5 linked regions of the Homo sapiens genome follow. The protein of the gene in region 3 purifies or fractionates together with the protein of the main gene of each other region. This does not show direct contact. Each region holds a gene or a part of one and is shown on either strand. Other genes may lie near its edges.

Region 1 (3,525 bases), on a different chromosome or scaffold from region 3:
ACACACACACACAAGAAAAAAAATGTGGTAATTGTACTTCTCTAGCAACCATTTCAACCAGAATTGAAAATCTGGCACATTTCTTTCATGGCATCTTTTTTTTCCTTGTACATGATGACTTTGTTTAACGTGTGTGTGTGTGTGTATGTGTGTGTGTGAGAGAGAGAGAGAGAGAGACAGATGTCTATGTTGTGTTCTCACTCTACAGTGCAAATTTCCTTGTTGCTTCATGGGATGTGCATAAGCATCATAAGCATCAGTTTTTTAATTGCTGCATGATTTTTCATCAAGGGGTTACATCGCTATATACGTACATATTGCGGCATATTCAGGTTGCATTATAATTTTCACCATTACAAATAATGTGGCAAAGACCATTTTTGTGCATGAGCCTCTTTAAATATTTACTCCCAAGGCCTAGGATAATTTTACCAGAAAGGCCTGATTAGATCTAAAAGTAGAAACACTTCTATGGCTCTTGAGCAGTCAATGACTTCAGGTCTCCTTGGCTTCCTCTTCTAAAGCCAAACTGTCACCAAGGCCTCTGTATCAAAACTGCAATTGGGAAACTGAGGCTCGCTTTCTTTGTTAAGTGGAAATTTTAGGAATGGCACATGGCAAAAGACAAGAAACCTAAAGGGAAAACAAACGTCCACTGAATAATCCATACCTGAACGTTAAGGCATTATTGCTTCCACTTCGAGAATCTAAAAGCTCATGATTCTCTGAATGATACTTAAACATTCACAAATGGGAGAATACAGGCATTGTATAGTACTAGCTTGGTGCAAAAGTAATTGCAGTTTTTAAATGGCAAAACCGCAATACTTTTGCACCAACCTAATAAATCCTAACTTTTAACTTCTGTGCAAGATATCATTTATGTCTTCCATTCCAGCAAAATGTCTGGAGCTTGAAGTATTTGGGATGAACTTTGTTCCTGGTTGAGTGGGTAACTAGATGCATTGAATAGAATGAGTGAACACACGCCATACGCTGGCTGAAGAACTTGAGTAAGAACATGTAAGAACTTCTGAGTGATGCTCTCAAATTATAAAAGCTGGATTTTAAGAAAAATTGAAAGACTTTGTCATAATTCACTTGAGAGAATTAAGTATTTACCAAGAGAGATGAGTGTACAGAAAATGATCCAAATTTAACTCTGAGAATTGAACAGTGTCTCATGCTAAGGAATTTCTTGTGTGGCTAGTATTTTTATACTCATTTATTTTTTTGGCTACGCTCTAATCGTGGTTTTCTTACAAGGTGGATTTTGGGAAAAAAAATCACAGTTTTTTTAGTAATGCAATCGATGTAAATATAACTAGTTAGTGAGCATTAAGTGTAAGTTATGCTTTCTCTATTGTTTTAACTAATTGGCATCTCCAATTCAGAACCTATCAGAAATATCAGACACTGTGACTCAAAGGAAAACCAAGTGGGAGCATTGAGTGAATAATATGATGTATGTAGTGACACTGCAAACCTGATGTTCACACAAAATTTTTTCCCCAAAAGTTTGGCAATTGGAAGCATCTCTGGCCATGCCAGGGTCCACCCTGATCTTGGAGTCATCTGGGTGGATGCTCACACTGATATCAACACTCCACTGACAACCACAAGTGGAAACTTGCATGGACAACCTGTATCTTTCCTCCTGAAGGAACTAAAAGGAAAGGTAAAAGACTGGTTGGTACTCTAGTGCAATAGAATACTTTTTAGTAGACATTCAGGAGGTGGAAGGGAAATGAGAAACTCCATGTTATCTTATTCTTGGTGTAATCTCAAATCATTTTCTCTGCAGCCAATAAGCAAAGGGTTGGTTGATAAAAGGCAGTGAGGCTCTCTATCTCTGCCTTGCAAACTGACTTAATATATATTTTCTCTGCTAATTCTTAAACTATCCTTTTAGTAGGTGGGGCAGAGAGTAATCATTTATAAACAGGTCAGTGGAGGTTCAGAGGTTAACCAACTTGCCCAAGATATATGCCAAGCCTATAGTGAAGCAAGGGCTAGCACCAGGTCTCCTCATTCCTTCCTCTTTCCACTACATGCCACACAGTTCTGCATTCTTACTGAGTAGTCCTTCTATATCATAGAGGCTTTTCAAAAAAGAAATTTTAAAATTTCAGATATAATGGTTTATGAACTAATGTATTTACTGGGAGAAGCACCTATCTAAATCATAAGAGAAAGAACTATCTCCCTGCTCCCTAGAAACTCCTTTTCTAAAAGATGGAAAATAAAATGGCAGATTAAGATTTAATATTACAGCTTATAACTTTGTTGATATGCCATAGTTTGTTGATATGCCATAGTATATCAATAAAAAGTTTTTATTGATACAATTATAATATTTGGTCCTTATGATGATACAAGAGGTTAAAACCTCCTTATGTTAAATGCTCAGAAATAATGTCTTTTGAACTAATGACCAAGGGATGGGTTTATAAACTTGCAAAGTATCTGCCTAGTACATGGGAAAAACTAAACGTCCTGGAGGACAAAGCAGATATCATCATATTATCACATTAAGAATAACCAAAGGACAGGCCACAAATTTCCCTCAGCTGCTCTAGGCCATCCTCTGGATTAAGGACTTACTGAGAAAGGGAAGTAAAGAAGGAAGCTACCAAAGTAATGGGAGCACAATCGTTTCTTTATAGAGGAGCCCTGGGAAAGAAGGGCCCAGCAGGACTGGGGCACAAAGTAGGTAAATGCCAACTGGTTCAAGGCAAAGTCAAAGCAATCAAGGGGAGGCACACATCCTCTTCTTAATTGTGTATTATTTTTACATGATTTCTTCTGTATTTATATTCTAAATATAAGATATACGCAATCCAATATGTGTCTTTACCTTTGAATGTAGGATTTGTTCAAGAGAATCATACATAACCAAGTGAAAACATTGTAATTTTAGATTCCCGATGTGCCAGGATTCTCCTGGGTGACTCCCTGTATATCTGCCAAGGATATTGTGTATATTGGCTTGAGAGACGTGGACCCTGGGGAACAGTAAGCTTATTCCTTGATGTGATTTGCCTCCATTTTTGTCCCTTTGTGTGCTAGATATGCTTTACTGACCAACTCTATGAGAGAAAATTAAACATCAAGACACACACACACACACATGCCCACACACATATATTTATATACATGTACATACATATGTATGTATCCAGGCAATTAAATCTCAATTGACTTGCTGTTAAAAATAAATACAAATAAAACTATATTGAGTTAGGTTCATAGAACCTAAATGTTTTATATATTTTACTATATTTATATTTCCCTTAAAAGGAGACAGGCGGGCACAGTCAGCCTTATTAATTATAATTATCTTAATTTCTCTTTTATAGCTACATTTTGAAAACTCTAGGCATTAAATACTTTTCAATGACTGAAGTGGACAGACTAGGAATTGGCAAGGTGATGGAAGAAACACTCAGCTATCTACTAGGAAGGTAGGATTCTTTTGTGTGTGCACACATGTGTGTGCAACAGAAAAGGTTGCTACTGACAACC
Region 2 (3,525 bases), on a different chromosome or scaffold from region 3:
CAATGTCAAGAGCCATTTTGACATTGAGCAAGTCCTGGTATTCCCGAAGGTGGCGTGCCATCTCACTCTTGGTGTTCCTCAGATCATTCTCCAGCTGCCCAATGCTATCCTGAAAAGTAACATATCCAAAATAGTTAGGCCAAACCAGCTGAAATTCCTCAAGATTTCCAGAAGGCAAGGATTCCCAGCCCTGACTACACATTAAAATCATCTAATGAACTTATAACTTGCTTATATCCAGGTCTGTCCCTGAGTCCAGATCCAGATTCACTGGTTCTGGGGTGGGGTCCCAGCATTTGCATTTTTTTCATAAAGGTCCCCAGGAGATTTGGACTCATGGTGAGGACTGGGAACTTTTACCCAGAGGGCAAGTGAACACCTGCCCTTTTCAGGATAGCCACACGGCATATAGTTCTGAACTGAACATGGAGATGATTTTTTTTTTTTTTACACTTACCATCCCTCCCTTGCTTGTTGTGTTGCTGCTAAATAACTCTGTTGTAGCATGTGCTTTCCAAAACCCAAAGCCTCAGGTTAGCAGCTTAGATTCAGAAAATTCCGAATGTGGAAAGCACAGAGAGCTTTCCAGGAAGACCTCTCTGCCTCCATTCATTTTGATGATTTCCTAGAAGCCTGCTAATCAGTCACTTTACTGAGAGCATTTTACATTATAGGTAAGGAGAAAGCAGAAATACTCCACAGAATTTTTAAAACACCGAGGCATGGAAGAGAAATCGCTTTATATTTATATATTTATAGTCCTTGAGCAGCCAGAAGGAATTCTTTTTTTTTTTTTTTTTTTTTTTTTGAGACAAGGTCTTGCTCTGTTGCCTAGGCTGGAGTACAGTGGTGTGATCACAGCTCACTGCAGCCTCAAAATTCCTGGGCTCAAGCGATCTTCCTGTCTCAGCCTCCCAAGCAGTTGGGACTAACAGGTGTACACTACCATGCCTGGCTAGTTAAAAAAGATTTTTGTTTTGTAAAGATGAGGTCTCATTATGTTGTCCAGGCTGGTCTTGAACTCCTGGCCTCAAGAGACACTCCTGCCTTTACCTCCTAAAGTGCTTAGATTACATGTATGAGCCACCATGCCCAGCCTGGTCTTTTCTTTTACTCCTTAACTATACCAAGTTCATTGCTGTCCCAGGCCCTTCAGGCTTGTTATTTCCTCTATCTAAAATGCCGGTCTTTACATGGCCGACTCCTTGTCATAGAAGATTCAGTTCACCCGGGTGTGGTGGCTCACACCTGTAATCCTAGCACTTTGGGAGGCTGAGGCAGGCAGATCACCTGAGATCAGGAGTTCAAGACTAGCCTGGCTAACATGGCAAAACTCCGTCTCTACTAAAAATACAAAAATTAGCTGGGTGCAGTGGCATGCACCTGTAATCCCAGCTACTTGGGAGGCTGAGGCAGGAGAATCGCTTGAACCCAGGAGGGGGAGGTTGCAGTGAGACGAGATCGCGCCACTGCATTCCAGCTGGGCAACAAGAGCGAAACTCCATCTCAAAAAAAAAAAAAAAAAGATTCAGTTCAAATGTCCTCTCCTGCCAGGCATGATGGCTCATGCCTGTAATCCCAGCACTTTGGGAGGCTGAGGTAGGAGGATCACCTGGAGTCGGGAGTTCGAGACCAGCCAGACCAACAAGGAGAAACCCCGTCTCTACTAAAAGTACAAAAATTAGCTGTGTGCAGTGGCAAGCGCCTGTAATCCCACCTACTTGGGAGGCTGAGGCAGGAGAATCGCTTGAATCTGGAAGGCAGAGGTTGCAGTGAGCTGAGATCGTACCACCGCACTCCAGCTTGGGCAACAAGAGCAAAACTCTGTCTCAAAAAAGATTCAGTTCAAATGTCCTCTCCTGCCAGGCACGATGGCTCATGCCTGTAATCCCAGCACTTTGGGAGGCTGAGGCGGGAGGATCACCTGGGGTTGGGAGTTCGAGACCAGCCAGACCAATATGGAGAAACTCTGTCTCTACTAAAAATACAAAAATTAGCCGGGCGTGGTGGTGCATGCCTATAATCCCAGCTACTAGGGAGGCTGAAGCAGGAGAATTGTTTGAATCTGGGAGGCGGAGGTTGCAGTGAGCCGAGATCGTGCCATTGCACTCCAGCCTGGACAACAAGAATGAAACTCCATCTCAAAAAATAAAATAAAATAAAATAAAATAAAATATAATGTCCTCTCCTCAGACAGGTCTTCATTTGCATCCAATTTAAGTATCCATCCTCGACCAACCCAGCACTTTATTTTACCTTAAGCCAGAGCAGCTACTGGCCCATGCAGGAACCTTGTGCAAATTAGAAAAAAAGCACTCAGTTGAATGCAGCCACCCTGCTCTCAGCTCTTACCATTATATGAAATTATCTTCTTCTTTTTTTTTTTTTCCGAGATGGAGTCTTGCTCTGTTACCCAGGCTGGAGTGCAGTGGCGCAATCTCAGCTCACTGCAACCTCCACCACCTGGGTTCAAGTAATTCTCCTGCCTCAGCCTCCTGAGTAGCTGGGATTACAGGTGTGCACCACCACACCTGGCTAATTTTTGTATTTTTAGTAGAGATGGGGTTTCACCATGTTGGCCAGGCTGGTCTTGAACTCCTAACCTCGTGATCCGCCCGCCTCAGCCTCCCAAAGTGCTGGGATAACAGGCATGAGTCACAGTGTCCGGCCCCGGCAATTTACTGGTTTATACTAGTTTATTTTCTGTTGCTTTCCTCTATAACAGAGTTTTACAACTTTGGCAGTGTTGATGTTTTAGGCTGGCTAATTATTTGTTATTGTGAAATGCGGGATATTTAGTAACATCCCTGGCTAGATGCCAGAAGCACATACTTCCCTCTCCCAGTTGCGATAACAAGAAAACATCTCTAGGGCATCCCAGCACTTTGGGTAGCTGAGGCAGGCGAATCACTTGAGGCTGAGCTGAGAGAATTGCTCGAGCCCGGTAGGCGGAGGTTGAAGTGAGCTATGATGGCGCCACTGTGCTCCAGCCTGGGCGACACAGCAAGACCCCGTCTTAAAAAAAAAAAAAAAGACACAATGATTGGGGGTTATTTTTAAGAAACAGTCATGCAGGGCCGGGCATGGTGGCTCATGCCTGTAATCCCAGCACTTTGGGAGGCTGAGGCGGGTGGATCACCTGAGGTCAGGAGTTCAGGTCAATCAAGAGACTGAGACTATGCTGGCCAACATGGTGAAACTATGGTCTCTACTAAAAATACAAAAATTAGCTGGGCGTGGTGGCGTGTGCCTGTAATCCCAGCTACTCTGGAGGCTGAGGTAGGAGAATCACTTGAACCTGGGAGGCAGAGGTTGCAGTGAGCTGAGATCGTGCCATTGCACTCCAGCCTGGGCAACAAGAGCAAAACTCCATCTCAAAAAAAAAAAAAAAAAAAGAAACAGTGATGCAGATAAACATATCAGAAACCTCAAGAAAGTAAGTGTTGACAGGCCCTTGAAACTCCCCTTGTGTGAGAATGATAAAGCAATGGTGAAAGGTAGGGCTGAGACATCAGGGGGTACAAA
Region 3 (3,525 bases):
AGTGGGTAAGTGTTCTCACCACAAAAAATGACTATATGAGGCAATGCATTTGTTAATTAGCTAGATACAGCCATTCACAATGTATACATTCTTCAAAACATCATGTTGTACATGATAAATACATACAGTTTTATCTGTCAATTTAAAAAGTAAAAAAGAAAGGATGAAATTAAGCATTATTTAATACATGGATTGACAATTGTACGTCTACTTAATACACATATATTGGGGGCACACGTGCAAGCATTTTCTACTGATAGGGATATAAGATCAAAGCAAGCTCAGAGACCTGTGGTTTTTGAGGGGCCTTCAGAGCTGATGCAGCCACCTCCACCTCAAAGGCTAAATGGCAGCATGCTGGTTGTTTGTGAGTACTGTACCTTCACAATGTGGGAATCCGATCTGTGACAAAATCTGTTTCAAGGTCAATTTGTTGCTCTTAAGCCCATGCAGTTGAAGCCATTTCTCAGATGAAATGAGACTCTGCTCAGCCAAGTCTGTTTTGGTGTTAATCCATCCCTCTTGCCTCTGCAGCTGCTGCTCAGAGATGGTAGAAGATGGGCCTGATTTCTCCATCTCTGAATCAAGATCTAAGTCACAGCAAACTCCTGTAAGGGCAATCATAAACTCAGACTTCCTAAAAACTTGGAAATCATCTAACGTCAACAGGGGACTGGCTTAACATAAATTATAGTACACCCATGAAGTGGAATGCTATTTATCAATTAAAATTATACATGTATATTTGGTGGAAAAGAGGACAGTCACATGAATTGCTAAGAGGTATCCATAAAGTTCAATATTCAACTATATATATATATATATATATATATATATATATATATATATATACAAAAACATCTAGAAAGATATTCCGTAACAGGTTTAGAGTAGTTTTCTCTGTGTGGTGGTAGTATGTGTGGTTTTTGCCTTTTCTATATTGTTTAAATTTTTGCATTATTTGAATATTTCTAAAATGGGGTTTACTTTGTTGTTGTTGTTGTTGTTTTTTGTTCATTTGTTTTTGAGAAGGAGTCTCGCTCTGTTGCCCAGGCTGGAGTGCAGTGGCACAATCTAGGCTCACTGCAACCTCCACCTCCCAGGTTCAAGCAATTCTGCTGCCTCAGCCTCCTGAGTAGCTGGGATTACAGGCGCGTGCCACCATGCCCAGCTAATTTTTGTATTGTTAGTGGAAATGGGGTTTCACCATGTTGGTCAGGCTGGTCTCGAACTGCTGACCTCGTGATCCGCCCGCCTTGGCCTCCCAAAGTGTTGGGATTACAGGCGTGAGCCACTGCGCCCAGCTGGAATTTACTTTTATAATCAGAAAACTGCAAAGCTCTTCCATTTTGGAAAAAAATAAACACTAGCCCCAGAACCTTCACTACACATCTGTATTCCAATAACAATCACACCTGACATTTTGTGCCCAATGAGGATGAGAAGGATAAAACTCTGACAGGTTTTTACCTGTCGAACAGGTGTAGTGGCTAATTGGGAGCTGGTGGCGGTTGGGAACCAGACCACAGCTCAGCCCAGCTGGAATACATGTATCCACTTTCTGAATGTTTTATTGTCTGGGGCTTTGCTCTACAATTGGACTTAAGCATTCTGGCCCATGTAGCCATCTGTTCTGGGATCAACTGGACCCAAGGCCATATGCAACATATTAAACTTAGCTAGACCTGCCTAAATATAGCTAGTGTATGCAAGAGGAAAGGATGGGGCCAAACTATAATGCAATCTTAACCCGCTCACCACAAATGGGCAGGGCCTGGTGACCTGGAGGAAGTGTAGAAAGTTCTGCTTACTTCTGTATCCAGAATTCACAATGCATGTAAACTGATACCCTGAATTGTAAAACTTTTTAACAATGAAAATAGGTTCTTTCCCTATTTCTAAAACTTTAACTGTATTTCCTAAAAGTTTCACTGTCATGACATGGAAATTCAGTCAAACACAAAAATCAGTTGGACCAAGTCAGGGAGGTTTTATAAAAAGGAGTTAGAAGTATTATCATTAGCAAGCACTTATTTAACATCATGTTATGTGCAATTTACATTTAATCCTTATAACCTCATGAGGTAGGTACTACTCTTATTTTCATTTTACAAATGAGGAAACCAAGACAGAGAGGGGTTAATTAACTTGTCCACAATCTTACAACTGGTAAGGGGTGGAGTTAAGATTCTAAACCAGGCCATTCAGCTCCAGGATCTGTGTTCTGTGATCTTTAGTGTAATAGAAGCAATGCAACAACTTCCATTTGTTGGTCCTTTTATACGCACTAGCTCACAGCTTCTTCATACCATATCAGTTACTCATTATTAACACGCCACTTACATGTGAGGAATCGCAAGCTTCGAGGATTTAAAGAACTTGCTCACAGGTTCTGCCACAGCCAGTGAGAAAAGCAGGAGTCAAAGCCATTTCTTAACCACTCTGCTATCTTTACAATTAACCTCCTCCAGCCAGGTCTTATGGGACAAGGCAATCTGCATTCCAGTAGGACTGCATTCTAGTAGGGCCCTAGGTCCTCATCCGGAACGCTAATCTTTATTCTCAGAGCTCAGACTCAATAAGCTTCTTGGCTTATCACTCTCAAACTTTTAAAGATAATGAGGCTGGGTGCAGTGGCTCATGCCTGTAATCCCAGCACGTTGAGAAGATCGCTTGAGCCCAGGAGTTCGAGACTACCCTGACCAACATAGTGGAGGACTCATCTCTACTAATTTTTTTTTTTTAATTAGCCAGGCATGGTGGTGCATGCCTGTAGTCCCAGCTACTCGAGAGGCTGCAGCAGGAGGATTGCTTGAGCCCAGGAGTTCGAGGTTGCAGTGAGCTCTAATTGCACCACTGCACTCCAGCCTGGGCAACAGAGCAAGAACTTGTCTTTAGCGAGACTCAGTCTCAAAAAAAAAAAAAGATAATAATTTCCATTTCAAGGTTTATGTGAATTTGTATTGTCCACATATGTTGAGTTGCAAAGGTATACAAATTATTATTGGTGAAGATCTGGCTTTCTTTCTACAAAGGCTCAATTTGAGGAGAATATTGCAATATTACTTGGAGAGCATCACGTAGGAGTGGAAAAGTTTAGAATCAAAACTCAGTATAAGCCCATTCTGCCACTTTAAGGTGATTCCACCTCTCTAGGATAGTAATACCACCTGCACACCCTAACTCCCAGGGCTATTCAAGGAACAACTGTGCTGATGTATAAGTTATGCGTGGATAAGCACTTTATATGTTGGAAACAGCTATGTGCAAATAAATGATCTAAAAGTCATGGTTCTTTAGTCATTGTATTTTGTTTCATGAGACCCACTTTCATCCCAAGCACTTTTTATCCCCAAGTCTCCAATCATACTGAGCTAGAAAGTTTAGAATCACAGAACATGAAAACAAGGGCAGACTAATATGCCTCAACTTGTTTTTGAGGATCTATCCACAAAGACTGGAGCTGAAAGAAAGTCTTTTAAATTTGGTCAGTTGTTCCAAGAAACAAGAAAGGGAAGCTCAGAA
Region 4 (3,525 bases), on a different chromosome or scaffold from region 3:
GAAACAAAAATAAGACCAGAATTAATGCTGAACCTTTTCTCAACCAAACAATATTCACTCATGAAAATATAAATCCATTGCGGGGGATGGGCAGTAGAGTACTGTTTATCACATTAAGAGATGCATTTCTGATACAATTTTACTTTTGATGTTTAACAATTACTTTTCATAATGTATAATACATTTGAAATGTTTTAATCAGTTGGGACACTAATAATAATTATGATTACTCAATCCAGAATAAATTTTTTTTTTTTTTTTTGAGACGGAGTCTCATTCTGTCGCCCAGGCTGGAGTGCAGTGGCGTGATCTCGGCTCACTGCAAGCCCCGCCTCCCGGGTTCACGCCATTCTCCTGCCTCAGCCTCCTGAGTAGCTGGGACTGCAGGCGCCCGCCACCACGCCCGGCTAATTTGTTTTTTGTATTTTTAGTAGAGTTGGGGTTTCACCGTGTTAGCCAGGATGGTCTCGATCTTCTGAACTCGTGATCCGCCCGTCTCAGCCTCTCAAAGTGCTGGGATTACAGGCATGAGCCACCGCGCCCAGCTCCAGAATAAATTTTTATAATATTCACAGATGTATGGGTCACAGGTAGTAAAAACATTTAATTTTTTTTTTTTTTTTTTTTTTTTTTTTAGACAGAGTCTCGCTTTGTCGCCCAGGCTGGAGTGCAGTGGCACGATCTTGGCTACTGCAACCTCTGCCTCCCAGGTTCAAGCAATTCTTCTGCCTCAGCCTCCCAAGTAGCTGGGACTACAGGTGCATGCCACCACGTCTGGCTTATTTTTGTATTTTTAGTAGAGATGAGGTTTCACCATGTTGGCCAGGCTGGTCTCAAACTCCTGACCTCATGATCCACCTGCCTCAGCCTCCCAAAGTGCTGGGATTACAGGCATGAGCCACGGCGCCCAGCCAAAATAAATAATTTAAATTTAAACTTTTTGTTGTTGTTGCAGAAAAGAATGTGAAGGTGATCAAGCATAAAAATGTATGTTCCCTTAGGATAAAATTCTGCCAGGTGGGGATGGAGATAGGTGTTCAACAAGAAAAAGAAACTCTGTATAATATCTGACTCTTTTTTGTTTTGTTTTCTTTATTTGAGATGGAGTTTCGCTCTTGTCACCCAGGCTGGGGTGCAGTGGCACAATCTCGGCTCACAGCAGCCTCCGCCTCTCAGGTTCAAGCGATCCTCCTGCCTCAGCCTCCTGAGTAGCTGGGATTACAGGCGCCTGCCACCATGCCCAGCTAATTTTTGTATTTTTAGTGGAGCTGGGGTTTTGCCATGTTGGCCAAGTTGGTCATGAGCTCCTGACCTCAGGTGATCTGCCCACCTTGGCCTCCCAAAGTGCTGGGATTACAGGCGTGAGCCACCACACCCCGCCTAAATACCTGACTCTTATAGAAAAGTTTGTTCATGTTACTGATGGTGGATATCAAATCATCATGGTATTTAGATTCCACTGGCTAGCTTTAAAAGAATGATATAACAATCTTATTTTTAGAGATTTTTTTTTTTTTTTTGAGACAAGGTCTCACTCCTGTCACCCAGGCAGGAATGCAGTGGCGCTATCATAGCTCATTGCAGCCTCAACCTCCCAGGCTCAAGTGATTCTCCCGTCTAATTTTTTTTATTTTTTTGTAGAGACGAGGTCTCACTTTGTTGCCCAGACTGGTCCCAAACTCCTAGGCTCAAGGGATTCGCCTGTGTCAGCCTCCCAAAGTACTGAGATTATAGGCTTGGGCCACACTGCCAGGTGTTATTTTTAAATCTCAATATTTATAAGTTGGAATATGTCTTTGGAGGTATTCAAATTTAAAATGAAATGTTTAGATAAGAACATACATGGGGAAATACGGCAGGAATCCAAAAACAAATGGCTGGCCTGCTTTTGTAAAATATTTTGTCTTGTTTGTTTTATTATGTTTTTGATAATATCTGTACATATTTGGGGGTACATGTGAGGTTTCGTTTTTGTGAAGTCTTGCGGGAACGCAGTCCTACCCATTAATGTTCACAGTCTCTGTGGCTGTCTCTGAGCCGCAGGGGCAGAGTTGAGTAGTTGTGGCAGAAACCATATAGATGGCAAAGCCTGAAATATTTACTACCTGTCCCCATAAGGAAAAACAGTGCTTGCCCTTGGAATAGATAGGTTTGTTTTTTGTTGTTGTTGTTTTTGAGACGGAGTCTCTCTCTGTCGCCCAGGCTGGAGTGCAGTGGCACGATCTCGGCTCACTGCAACCTCCGCCTCCCGGGTTCAAGCGATTCTCCTCAGCCTCCCGAGTAGCTGGGATTACAGGCACACACCACCATACCCAGCTGATTTTTATATTTTTGTGGAGACAGGGTTTCGCCATGTTGGCCAAGCTGGTCTTGAACCCCTGACCTCAGGCAATCGGCCCACCTCGGCCTCCCAAAGTGCTGGGATTACAGGCATGAGCCACCGCGCCCAGCTGGAGTAGATAGCTTTTTAAATTAACTTCTTACCGAAATATAACTTCATACAGAAAGGGGCACAAATCATTGAGTATGCATTTCCACGAATTTTCTCAATCTAAACACACTCAGTTAACCAGCGCCCAGTTGAAGAAACAGGATATGAGCAGCATCCCGGAAGTGCTTTCTGCACCCCGACCCAGTAGGCATAACCACCATCCTGACTTTCAACACCATTGACTAATAGTATATACTTTTTCACATTAATTTGGGGTACAAAACCAGGAAGAGTCGGAGTTTCTTTTTGCATTCTGCATTATATAACACCATTTTTGGTGTTTTAAATTTAGTCCAGTTTTCGAAAATGCAAATCAGTTCTAAAGTGCCCTACTTTGCTATAGACTCAACATTACTGTGATGCGCCCAGACCTAATTTTTTTTTTCTTTTTACAGAGAAGTTTCACTTCAAGTCATGGATGTCTAAGGTCAGTGCCCAACTTCTTCTTTTTGAAGTTTTTCATTTCACAAAGTTTCCTGTTATCAAACCAAACTGTCCCAGATTTGAGACAATGAAAAAGGGAATTTCCAACTTTGCCTAGTGGGGTCTTTCCAGAAGTTGAACTGGCCAAACACTGGGAAAGATGCAGTTAAGTAAATTCCTTCCAAATAGTGGTCCCAAGTGATTAACTTGGCTGACAGCCTTCCAAGCCCTGGGATTCATTTCTGTATTTTGTTTTCAAAGCACATTGTGGAGAATGTAAATTAGTACAACCATTGTAAAAAAAACAGTATGGAGGTTCCATCAAAAACTCAAAACAAAACTACCATATGACCCAGCAAGCCTACTACTGAGTATATATCCAAAAGAAAGGAAATTAGTATATTGGAGGGATATCTGCACCCTCATGTTTATTGCAGAACTAGTCACAATAGCCAAGATATGGAATCAACCTAAGTGCCTATCAATGGGTAAAGCAAATGTGGTGTATGTACACAATGGAATATTATTCAGCCATAACAAAGAATGAAATTCTGTCATTTGCAGCAACATGGATGGAACTGGAGGTCATTATGTTTAGTGAAATAAGCCAA
Region 5 (3,500 bases), on a different chromosome or scaffold from region 3:
CAACAAAACCCATGAAGTATCCAAAGTAAGTTATACAAATAATAGTTGAAGAATAAAAGAGAGTAAATATTTTTCTTTTTAAAACATAAACTGATATTAGATTAATGCTAAGCCTACAGAATTCCTCCCAGGCACTTGCTTACTGATAGATTTTGGGGGAAAAGGTAAGAGTTGGTGTTGGGTTTAAGTCTTGGGGACTTAGTGTCAGCGTGGACATACATAGTGCCTTGAAAGTGGCTGGGCTAGTGGCCTCTAGTAGCCAGAGCAGTGAAGGGGATGTAGCAGAGTGGGCAGTTTCCACTTGGACAGGTGTCAGATGTCCTCTTCTCTGTTCTCTTTCCCTCTTCCACCTTGTCCCTGTCATCATTCCCCATGCATCTCCATAAAGGTATTTACTAAGAACCTCTGCCACACCTAACGTCCTGTCAGGCACCAAGGACGGTACCAAGAGAGGTACAGATGATGCTAGGACTGAGCTTAGTAACCCATGGGTGGTAACTGAACTGATGCAACTCTTTTCATGCAGAACACTGTCTTGGAGGCATTCCAGAATGCATCTCTTATATCTAGAGTGAGCTGCAGACTTAAGAAAGGGAAATTCTGGCCGGGCGCGGTGGCTCACGCCTGTAATCCCAGCACTTTGGGAGGCCGAGGCGGGCGGATCACGAGGTCAGGAGATCGAGACCATCCCGGCTAAAACGGTGAAACCCTGTCTCTACTAAAAATACAAAAAATTAGCCGGGCGTAGTGGCGGGCGCCTGTAGTCCCAGCTACTTGGGAGGCTGAGGCAGGAGAATGGCATGAACCCGGGAGGCGGAGCTTGCAGTGAGCCGAGATCCCGCCACTGCACTCCAGCCTGGGCGACAGAGCGAGACTCCATCTCAAAAAAAAAAAAAAAAAAAAAAGAAAGGGAAATTCTGATTCCGAATGCTTCCAATTAAGTCATGGTACTGGGATGGAGGAGCCAAGTAGCAGAGCATCCCAAGAGCGTTGCCATCCCTTGAGATCTGCATAGTCTCACCTGCCCTTCCCACTGGGAACCAGGGAGGTGGAAGGGTTGGCAGAGTCTGGCCACTGAAACAAAAGGAGGGGTCCAGGTTACAACCTTTAGCTGAGACCTGGTCTTCTCATCTATGGTGTGTGGCCATAATATCGCCAACACCACAGTACTCTTGAGAGAATTAAATGTGCCTTAGCACAGCATTGCCCCACAGAAAACATATCCAAATGCAAATTCCTCTTTCCTTCCCATTGTCTAAAGAGGCAGAGCTCCAAGGTTCTCAGCAGAACTTTTGAACTTCTGGTTTATTGAATGACAGGTGTCCTGCAAATCTGACCCTCTTACCCTCAGGTTGAAGCCCTAGGGTGGCTGCTCTTCCACTGCAGAAGATGTTCCCAGTGGGAGGGGCGGGTGAGGCTGTGCAGATCTCGAGGGATGGCAGCGCTCTTGGAATGCCCTGTCACTTAGCTCCCCCCTTCCATAAATGTGACTTTATTGAAAGCATTCAGAACCAGAATTTTCCTTTCTCAAGCCTGCAGCTCACTCTAGATATCAGAGATGCATTCTGCAATGCCTCCAAGCCATGTTCCGTGTGAAAGGAGTCACATCAGTTCAGTTCAGTTACCACCCACGGGTTCCCCCATGTTGTCTCAACATGGGGACATCCCCAAAGGGACTGACGTGTTTCAGCCTGCACTCTACAGATTTTTAGAGTTCACAGAGATGTCTTGAGAGATCTCCCTAGGGAACTGGGGGGTGTAGAACATGAAGAGAAGGTAAGAAATGGGAGGGATGCCAGGTCTTCCACCCCACTTCATCCAGAAGTCTGGCTTTGTGAGACATGGACTCCAGAATATGACATTTCCCGTAGGACTCAAATTACAGTGGCTTGAGACTCTGCAGTTGATTTGCTGGAACTCACTGTCCTGAGTGCACTCCACCCCTATCTCCAAGCCATGTCTGACAATTTCTCCATGGGGCTACAGCTCAGGTGCTACACTGGGGGCTTCACATTCCCCTCACTGAGGCCCTCTGCAGCCCCTGGTGCTGTGACCACCATCAGGCCACCACCAACCACACAGATGTTCCCTGGGCACTGCCACCATCTCTCTGGCTTCAGGCTTCATCTCCTTTTGCACCTTTACACAAGAGTGAAATAGAACCTTTGAGATTTTCTGTAGGCTAGTGCCAGACTTCCTGGAGGTTTGGGAATAACAGAACCAAAGCTCCTCACAGGGACCCAGGATAACTTACAGCGCACAGAAGCGGCGTCTTGTGAAGTCCAAGTGTAAGCTGCTCTCAGTGGCGTCTCGTGAAGTCCAAGTGTAGAGTGTAGGCTGCTCTCAGTGGTGTCTTGTGGAGTCCAGGTGTAAAGTGCAGGCTGCTCTCAGTGGCGTCTTGTGAAGTCCAAGTGTAGGCTGCTCTCAGCATCTCTTCCAGGGCACCTCCTTCCATTTTTCTAGTGCCTGGTCTGCCTCCCCCATCCCTCTGGGACTGCTTTCCGCATCTCCTTGACTTGAGGCCAGGCCTCCCCACCAGGAGGGCCATAGAAAGGAAGGTTCCTCTCACCCCAGGGATGTCTTGCCTACCCAGTCACTTCTGGCCTTGGAATGACAGACAGGGTATTGTCCACCTTCCCGAGAAGAAACTCCAAATCCTCTTGCAGGACAGGGGGCTTGCTCACCGTCCCCAGGGAATTACATTTCATTAGAACATGATAGGAACAAACATTCCTACCTTCTGAGCTCATTATTTCTGGGAGATAAGTGGTCAAGTTGCTTTGATCTACAGGTGGGAAGCCTAGTCCAGAGAGCTCAGTGGCCCGCTATGGGAGAGCAGAGGTGGACGGGCTATCCCTATGCATTCTTTCTGCAGTCCTCTCCAGACTGGAGGGCCTAGAAGACACTGAGCAGAAAAATCACCTTTTCCCTAAAAGAAGTAACCAAGTCAACAGACACACACCAACTTACATGTGTGTAGAACATGTCAGAATTTAGGCTTCGGATGACTTCCACCTGGCCTCTGTGCAGGAGGCAGACACCTGCTTTGGATTTGCATAATTTGAGGCCAGGTGCTGCTCTGATTTCCCCAGAGGAAAAGCTCTGTTTCCCAGGGTCCACCTTTAGGAGCAGAAAACTGCTGGTGGCTTTGAAATAGCCATTGTCCTGTTCAGAAGTGTCGAGGGTCCACTCCCAGCCTGGGTGCCCCCCACACATTTCCGTACATATTGGTATATGCACTCACCTGTCAGCACAGCTGCACTTAGTGCCTTCCCACGTTGGCACAAACTAAAGCCGATCTCCTCATTTACGCACTGGACCTACGGCCCCCTGCTACTCAGGAACATCACCCTAGAAATCCTCTCCTCACTTTCCTACATCAGCATATGTTTTTCTCTCTTCTGAATCATTTCCATCAGATACAAAGATGCCCTTATCTTTCCTATCATGAAACCTCGCAGGGGGCCAGGGAAAACTTACAGCTCATAGAAGTGGCTTCT

What was found.
Region 1: the proteins of VWA3B (region 3) and ARG1 purify together in Homo sapiens (affinity purification with mass spectrometry; one large-scale study listed by BioGRID and IntAct). This does not show direct contact.
Region 2: the proteins of VWA3B (region 3) and INA purify together in Homo sapiens (affinity purification with mass spectrometry; one large-scale study listed by BioGRID and IntAct). This does not show direct contact.
Region 4: the proteins of VWA3B (region 3) and CTSH purify together in Homo sapiens (affinity purification with mass spectrometry; one large-scale study listed by BioGRID and IntAct). This does not show direct contact.
Region 5: the proteins of VWA3B (region 3) and SERPINA12 purify together in Homo sapiens (affinity purification with mass spectrometry; one large-scale study listed by BioGRID and IntAct). This does not show direct contact.

What each region holds. Positions count from the first base shown.
Region 1 is NC_000006.12:131,579,701-131,583,225, forward strand, and holds part of ARG1 (arginase-1), read left to right. Parts: intron 1-1,518; coding exon 1,519-1,678; intron 1,679-2,920; coding exon 2,921-3,015; intron 3,016-3,359; coding exon 3,360-3,464; intron 3,465-3,525. UniProt on the Homo sapiens protein: Key element of the urea cycle converting L-arginine to urea and L-ornithine, which is further metabolized into metabolites proline and polyamides that drive collagen synthesis and bioenergetic pathways critical for cell proliferation, respectively; the urea cycle takes place primarily in the liver and, to a lesser extent, in the kidneys.
Region 2 is NC_000010.11:103,283,619-103,287,143, reverse strand, and holds part of INA (alpha-internexin), read right to left. Parts: intron 110-3,525; coding exon 1-109. UniProt on the Homo sapiens protein: Class-IV neuronal intermediate filament that is able to self-assemble. It is involved in the morphogenesis of neurons.
Region 3 is NC_000002.12:98,090,144-98,093,668, reverse strand, and holds part of VWA3B (von Willebrand factor A domain-containing protein 3B), read right to left. Parts: intron 609-3,525; 5' UTR 577-608; coding exon 381-576; intron 1-380.
Region 4 is NC_000015.10:78,938,533-78,942,057, reverse strand, and holds part of CTSH (pro-cathepsin H isoform a preproprotein), read left to right. Parts: intron 1-2,886; coding exon 2,887-2,918; intron 2,919-3,525. UniProt on the Homo sapiens protein: Important for the overall degradation of proteins in lysosomes.
Region 5 is NC_000014.9:94,492,470-94,495,969, reverse strand, and holds part of SERPINA12 (serpin A12 precursor), read left to right. Parts: intron 1-3,500. UniProt on the Homo sapiens protein: Adipokine that modulates insulin action by specifically inhibiting its target protease KLK7 in white adipose tissues.